Linked DNA regions of Homo sapiens. The protein of the gene in region 2 purifies or fractionates together with the protein of the main gene of each other region. This does not show direct contact. Each region holds a gene or a part of one and is shown on either strand. Other genes may lie near its edges.

The links. The genes of interacting proteins can lie anywhere in the genome.
Region 1: the proteins of SPARC (region 2) and BCAT1 fractionate together in Homo sapiens (co-fractionation; one large-scale study listed by BioGRID). This does not show direct contact.

What each region holds. Positions count from the first base shown.
Region 1 is NC_000012.12:24,942,602-24,946,101, forward strand, and holds part of BCAT1 (branched-chain-amino-acid aminotransferase, cytosolic), read right to left. Parts: intron 1-3,500.
Region 2 is NC_000005.10:151,676,916-151,680,415, forward strand, and holds part of SPARC (SPARC isoform 1 precursor), read right to left. Parts: intron 2,842-3,500; exon of another isoform or gene 2,741-2,841; intron 2,422-2,740; exon of another isoform or gene 2,305-2,421; intron 133-2,304; exon of another isoform or gene 30-132; intron 1-29.

The DNA of each region.
Region 1 (3,500 bases), on a different chromosome or scaffold from region 2:
GCTGTGGCTAAGGTGGAGTCACCTGCAAAGAACATGGCCATACTGGCCTTCTCCTTTGACAGGTACAACAGGTAGGGGAAGTTATCTAAGTGGGAAGTAGGAAGGCTAGGCACCCCAAACTCCTACACTCCACTAAGAAATTGCATATTAACCTTGGCTAAGAAAACACCCACACACACTTCCAAACTAGTTGAAGATCGAAGAAATTAGGGTGCATATGGTATGAACCGAGTTCTATTCTGTAACTATACACCTTAGATCTTGATGGGATGAAACAGAGAAGAAAGTGATAACTTATGTGCTGTGAACAAACAAACCATTGGTTGTTTATCTCTTGAACTAAAAGTGGAGATTTTCAATATTCAAATGGCAGCGTGAAGCTTCTGCTTATATAGTTTCATATCTCAGCTGACTGCAAAGGCAAGAGCCAATAGCCCTCCACTGCTCTGAATAACTAAACCATTTCAGTCTTTTCTACCTGTCTTCCATGCTATATGCACTCTATTGTCCTGGCTTTAATAACCAATAATTTAGATATAAAACTTTGTGTCTATATGTGTTTGCACATTTTGCAAAAGATTGGCCATACTTTTCATAAGATTTACAAACTGGCCCAGTGCAGTGACGGATGCCTGTAATCCCAGCACTTTGGAGGCCAAGGTGGGTGGATCACTGGAGCCCAGGAGTTCAAGACCAGCCAGTGCAACATGGAGAAACCCCATCTCTACAAAAAATACAAAAATTCACCGGGCGTGGTGGCACATGCCTGTGGTCCCAGCTACTCAGGGAGCTGAGGCAGGAAGATCACTTGAGCCCAGGAGGTTGAAGCTGAAGTGAGCCATGATTGTACCACTGCACTCCAGCCTAGGTGACAGAATGAGACCCTATCTGGAAAAAAAAAAAAAAAAAAAAAAAAATTTACAAAGTGGTGTCAGACCCAAGAAAGCCTAGAACCTGGAGAGATCAATAGCACAATAGACTAGGAGTCTGTCTACTTTCTCATTTTGCTCTTTTATTTGTATTATTTATTTATTCTTAAGCAATTCTAGTAAGTTTTCTGATGCTTTCCTTAGAAGAATGTTTTCAGTTAAAGTAGTTTGAGGCCGGGAGCGGTGGCTCACGCCTGTAATCCCAGCACCTTGGGTGGCCGAGGCGGGCAGATCACGAGGTCAGGAGATCAAGACCTTCCTGGCTAACATGGTGAAACCCCGTCTCTACAAAAAATACAAAAAATTAGCCGGGCGTGGTGGCGGGCGCCTGTAGTCCCAGCTACTCAGGAAGCTGAGGCAGGAGAATGGCGTGAACCCAGGAGGCGGAGCTTGCAGTGAGCCGAGATCGCACCACTGTACTCCAGCCTGGGTGACAGAGCAAGACTCCGTCTCAACAAAAGAAAAAAAAAAAAGTAGTTTGCATGGCATTTAGAAAATGGAAAGCAAAAGCACCAATTAAGCAAGGAAGTCTTGCCTCAAACCTGCATGTGTTTCTTCTATAAACACCAGCACTATTCTTATAAGTGTACAGAGCACTCACCGACACTGAAAACCATGGAACCCTGAGTCATGTATTATGCTTCCCCATGTAGACTTCGCAGCTGTCTTTTAACTCTACCTTTTATCTTCAAAGTTCAAGGAAACATTTATTATGATTTCAAATTCCTGAACTCACATCTAGTCCTAAAGTCAAAACAATATAACTTGGTATCTAAATCAACTGAAATGAAATGAAATGCACTTGGCAAAATCACCCTTTTATGTAGTGGTGGAATGCTAACAACTGCCCTGTGACCATCCTGTGCAAATCCACCCTTGGCCTCATCCCAGGATATACCCAAACTTCGTCTCAACTGTGTCTCTTTGTCAGTCACGTTAAGAGACAGCTGTGGAATGTTTGGTCTAGAATATCCCAACAGGTGCTCCTTCCGTCTCAACTTCTATGGAGTCAAATAGAATTTGATCTGTAATCCTATGTCCCAGGCTTCCTAAGTCTTCCTAAAGCAGATATCCATTTATAGTCAAAACAGCAAAAACAGTTCTCACACTGAGGGATAAACCGTAAATGCAATTGATGAAACATTCAAATCTACACACCGAAATAAAGAACTGACAAATGAATTTGTTCTTTTTAGATTAAAGACTATTCTTAATGGAACTAGCTGAGTTTTGCAAGTATTTCACAACTTTCAATAAGAAAGAGCCATATGTTTTTCAGTATGACTTCAGTTTATTACTTGTAATTTCCTCTATTTTTTTCTTTATTGGTCTTCCCTGTTTCCATTCTTCCATTTTCCTGTATTTTTGGGACATAACTGTCTCTTTCTTTTAGAGTTTGTTTTTCCCATTAATTACTGAACACAAGAAAAATGTTTTGCAAAATAGTCTTTCCCACCAAAAAGGTATAACAGTAGAAAAACGTTTATGTGACATGCTATGCTGTATTCATAAGGTAATCTAATTTCCAAGCTATTTTAAGGATATGAGTACTCAATTTTTAGGGGAAAGATAATTTAGCTTTGTGGACTTTAGAGCACAAATTATAAGCATAGTTGAAACTGATACCTGAACCTGGTGTTCCAGAAAAGACAGATTCTCCTTTGCGTTCACCATTGACATTGTGAGTCACTGACAAGGTCTTATGATGAAACTGTTTACCAATATTTGCAAAGTCATGTTTATGAATAAAAGCACCTAAATGCTTAATTTTGAAACATTTAAAAAATGTGAGTTGCACCTCACATTTATTTCTTGGCTGAACTGCATACAATCCCATTGCAGTGGCCTTAGTTGAATGGACAGAGGCTCAGGAAAGGCCAACAGTAGGAACATTTACCATATGTTAGGTGAAATGTATAGACCAGTTGGACAGCTGTTAAGGGGATAATGTTACAATACAAAAGCTGCCTATATTTTTGACAGTAAAATGAGCAGATCAGCCATAGTTTCCTCCTGTGCTCAAAAAGAATGATAGCACATGCCTGTAATCCCAGCACTTTGGGAGGCCGAGATGGGCAGATCGCTTGAGGCCAGGAGTTCCAGACCAGCCTGGCCAACATGGCAAAACTCCGTCTTTACAAAAAAATACGAAAATTAGCTGGGCATGGTGGTAATCCCAGCTTCTCAGGAGGCTGAGGCACAAGAATTGCTTGAACCTAGGAGGCAGAGGTTGCAGTGAGTAGAGATCACTCTGCGGCACTCCAGCCTGAACAACACAGTGAGATTCTGTCAAAAAAAAGAAAAGAAAAAAGAATGATAGCATCATATAGAAAGTAGAGGATAGCTGGCACAATTATGTCTATCATGGAAGGTCCCAGATTCTCACTCTCCAGTATAGCAACCAAACCTTCCTGAGCATAAGGCTGATCATGCCACTGGGTTTCCCTGGGGTGGGCATCTGTTATTTAAAGAAACTGTGGTTACCAACACTAAAGGGAAATAAAGAAAGTTCTTTATTTTCCAACTTCCTATACCAGTTGAGAAGAGGCCATTTAAAGAAGCTGGCAACCT
Region 2 (3,500 bases):
GGGTGGCCACATTTTTCTCCATTCTACCCAGAAGAGACAGCACTTCTTTAGGTCCTGTACGGAAACCATCCAGATGCTTCCATGTGTTGCAGAGGGGATGTTAGCTGAGATCTAGAAAATACCTCTGTTCTGGTAACTGTTAAGGCCTCATTCTCTAAATGCCAAGCTCTAGACTCTAATACTCTCATGACTATAAGGGATTTTGGAGCAGTATCTCCTCTGAGGATTCAAAACTAAAATGCTATTCCTAACAGAGGCTCTGTGGTGGAGACATTTCATTTCTTGCACTAACTAAATGGCTTTTCATTCTCAAGTGACTTTAGAAAGTTCTTTCTTTTACTGATCTAAATGTGCCTCCCTCAAACTTTCTGATCTGTCTACCCCATCTCCCCTGCAGCCACAAAGAACAAACCTGCTCTCTCTACCCACAAATAACCTTCCATCAGGAGCAACAGTGGCCATGTCTTCCCTCTTTCTTCTCCCAAAACCTCCCTGTCAGGCTCATCATCCCTTATTTCTTCCAAGACTTCTCAACTGACCAAATGGTGGTGGGAGGTAACCCGGCATCATGGAGAAAAATACTCAGCTTGAAATTAAATGCCAGGGGGTCTTGTTCTACCACAGTAGTATCAAGTCTTTTGGTCTCTCTAGACCTTGGTTCCCCCATCTATCAATTGAAATGGGTAGACTAGGTGAACTTTGAAGTGGCAGCCTCGGTCCTTAAAATGCTCTTAAGACACCCCAAGCACATTCTGGTCTTGACACATATGGTCTCCTCTGGGATCATATGTCTTCACTTGTACTATAGCATTTGGGAAGCAGAAACAGGCAGAGGAAGAGCCCACTTCATAATGGTCCTTTCTTGGGCTTAAAGAGACACAAAACCTCACCCCCTATTGCACAGAGTGAATGAAGTAAAACTAACAGAAATGTAAAGGACCTGGGGGTTTGGTATTGCTTCACAATAACCCCAACTTCCAGAGGAGTCTAGTCTTCCCTTTTGAGGCAGCTTGTGGAATGTTCCTCCCCTCACACAGTTGTTCACTTGTTCCCCAGGCTTAAGTGGAAAAATCTCCCTTCTTGCTTCCCCTTTTGGAAGACGCAAGATAAATAACTCCTGCATGTGGCTTGGGACAAATGGAACAGAAAAGAAAACATCAAGGAAGGACTTGTCTGAGATAGTTTGAGGTTGAAGGATCAAAGTGAAATAGCAGCTAAAACAAAACAAAACAAAAAGTTACCCTGTCTGAGCTATAATGACAGGGAAGTCATGTTATTGAAGAAATAGCCCAGCTAGGACTGGAAATGTAGTAAGCTTCAGATTAGAAAGACAGGAAGACAGACATTTCCCTGAGTCTGCGTCCTTCATATGAGCAGAGTAACCGCGCTCCCCTCTGTGACCAGGGGAAGGTTTCGCTGGGCGGCTCTTCTGTCTGTCCTGCCTCCTCATCTTCCTGAATTCCTTTTCCAGCTGCACACTCACCCTCCCTGCCACCCCCATCCCTGCTGTTGCAGCCAGAAGAGAAAAATAACTCTAAGTCTTATAGTGCTGCTTCATAGTTTCTAAAGCACTGTCACATAACACTGTCTCCTAGAGCCTTCTGACAATGCTGGGAAGTAGGCAGACAGGCATGGAAGGGTTCTTAGTCCCACTGTCCTAATGGGGAATCTGAGGTTGAGAGGGAGGAAGCACTTGTCCAAAGTCATGCAACAATTCAGGCCCTCTCCAAATAGGCAAGCGTTCTCACTCATGGAGTTGGGGTGAGCCTAATAGGAATTACGCTCAGACAAGTGGGAGTGGGGGAGAAATGCAGAGAGACTGTTAAGAACAGAACGCAAAATCTTGGAATACACCTTAAAAGTTTTGGAAGAAAACTGTAAACACAAACACAAAATCTGGGTCCTGCCCAGCACCCGGTGCTACACCACCAGTCCAAGAGCACTTTTCCCCCAGATGATGAGATGGGAGGGAAGGGAAGCGGCTGAACTATTCCAGATGCACAGCCATCTCCCTGCCTCCCCACGAGATACCTCTCTGAGGCTCTCTAAACTACCACTGACCAAAGAGCCCTGTGTCCATCCTGCAAAGCTAATGGAGTATAACAGTCACCCCAGCAAGGTCAGAACACAGTATCAAACCCCAGCATTCAGAACTCACAGCTGTGATCCTTTGCCAATCAAACCTAGGTGTAGCGTGCCTGGCGAAAATTTAAATTCCCTTCATATAAATGACCAATATTAAACAAAAACTCCCTCCTTTGTATTTCTTTAGTCTGTGATGATGCATACATTTATCATTTTCAGGGTGTTTTCATAATCCAGCACCCCACTGGGGGCTCAAGTCACATATTTCTGCCCAATAGTACAGATGAGAAGACCAAGGCCTAGAGGAAAGGAGAAAACTGCCAACGGCTAACAGCAGTGAGTGAGTGACTGGGTGGCAGGGCTAGGGTGAGAACCCGTGCAACCCTACCCCACCACTGGTATGTCTCTACCTCTGCACACTATTTCCCTTGGCAGCTACCCGCTCCCAGGTGGTCACCTGAATGGGGCTCAGTTGGGCCTTGAACTGGCCTGAGTTCCTGGGAAGGAAAATGCCCAGGGCCAGGGGAGGAAGAGAAGGCATATTTCCCTTGGCATGGTGGCCATCAAATGCAGACAGTTTTAGCCCCCTCCCAGCCGCCACTGCCTCCTGTTCCGTACATCGAGTCCCTTCCTTTTGCCTTTATTTGCTCTGGAGACTGCTGAAAACCCGTCCTTGGCTGCCAGCAGGACCTGAAGCTGAGGTCACTTCTCTCTCTGGAAAGACTCTGAGGATGGAAAAGTACAGCCAGCCCCCAGGTTTGTCCCTCAAAACATAAAGGGCCTCCTTTGGGCTCTCCTTGGACGTTAAAAAGCCACTGAACGTTAGAACAGGGGGGATACCTCAGAATCATAGAATCATGGACTGTGGGTCTCAGAATGATAGACTTAGGATGTGAAGCAAAGAAACTGAGTTGCCATCATTAAATCTTATTTGGGTGGAAAGAACTTATGGAGTAATGCAACCCAACAGGACTTCCCAAGATGATGAACACATTCTATATCTACGTGGTCCACTATGATAGCTACTGGTTACAAGTGGTTACTGAATGCTTGAAATGTTGCCAGTGCAAATGAAGAACTGAGTTTTAAATTGTATTTCATTTTAACCAATTTTTTTATTTAAAAATTTTATGCAAAAGGACTGAGGCCAATCCAAAATATCTTACTTAACCCATACCTTGTTGAAATACTGCAATAGAGAATAGTGGAAAACATCTTTTTTTTTTTTTTTTTTTTTTTTTTTTGAGACACGGTCTCCCTCTGTCACCCAGACTGGAGTGTGGTTGGCGCAATCTCAGCTCACTGCAACCTCTGCCTCCTGGGCTCAAGTGATTCTCCCATCTCAGCCTCCCGAGTAGCTGAGATCACAGGCACTTGTGACTACACCCAGCGAATTTTTCTTTTCTTTTCTTTTT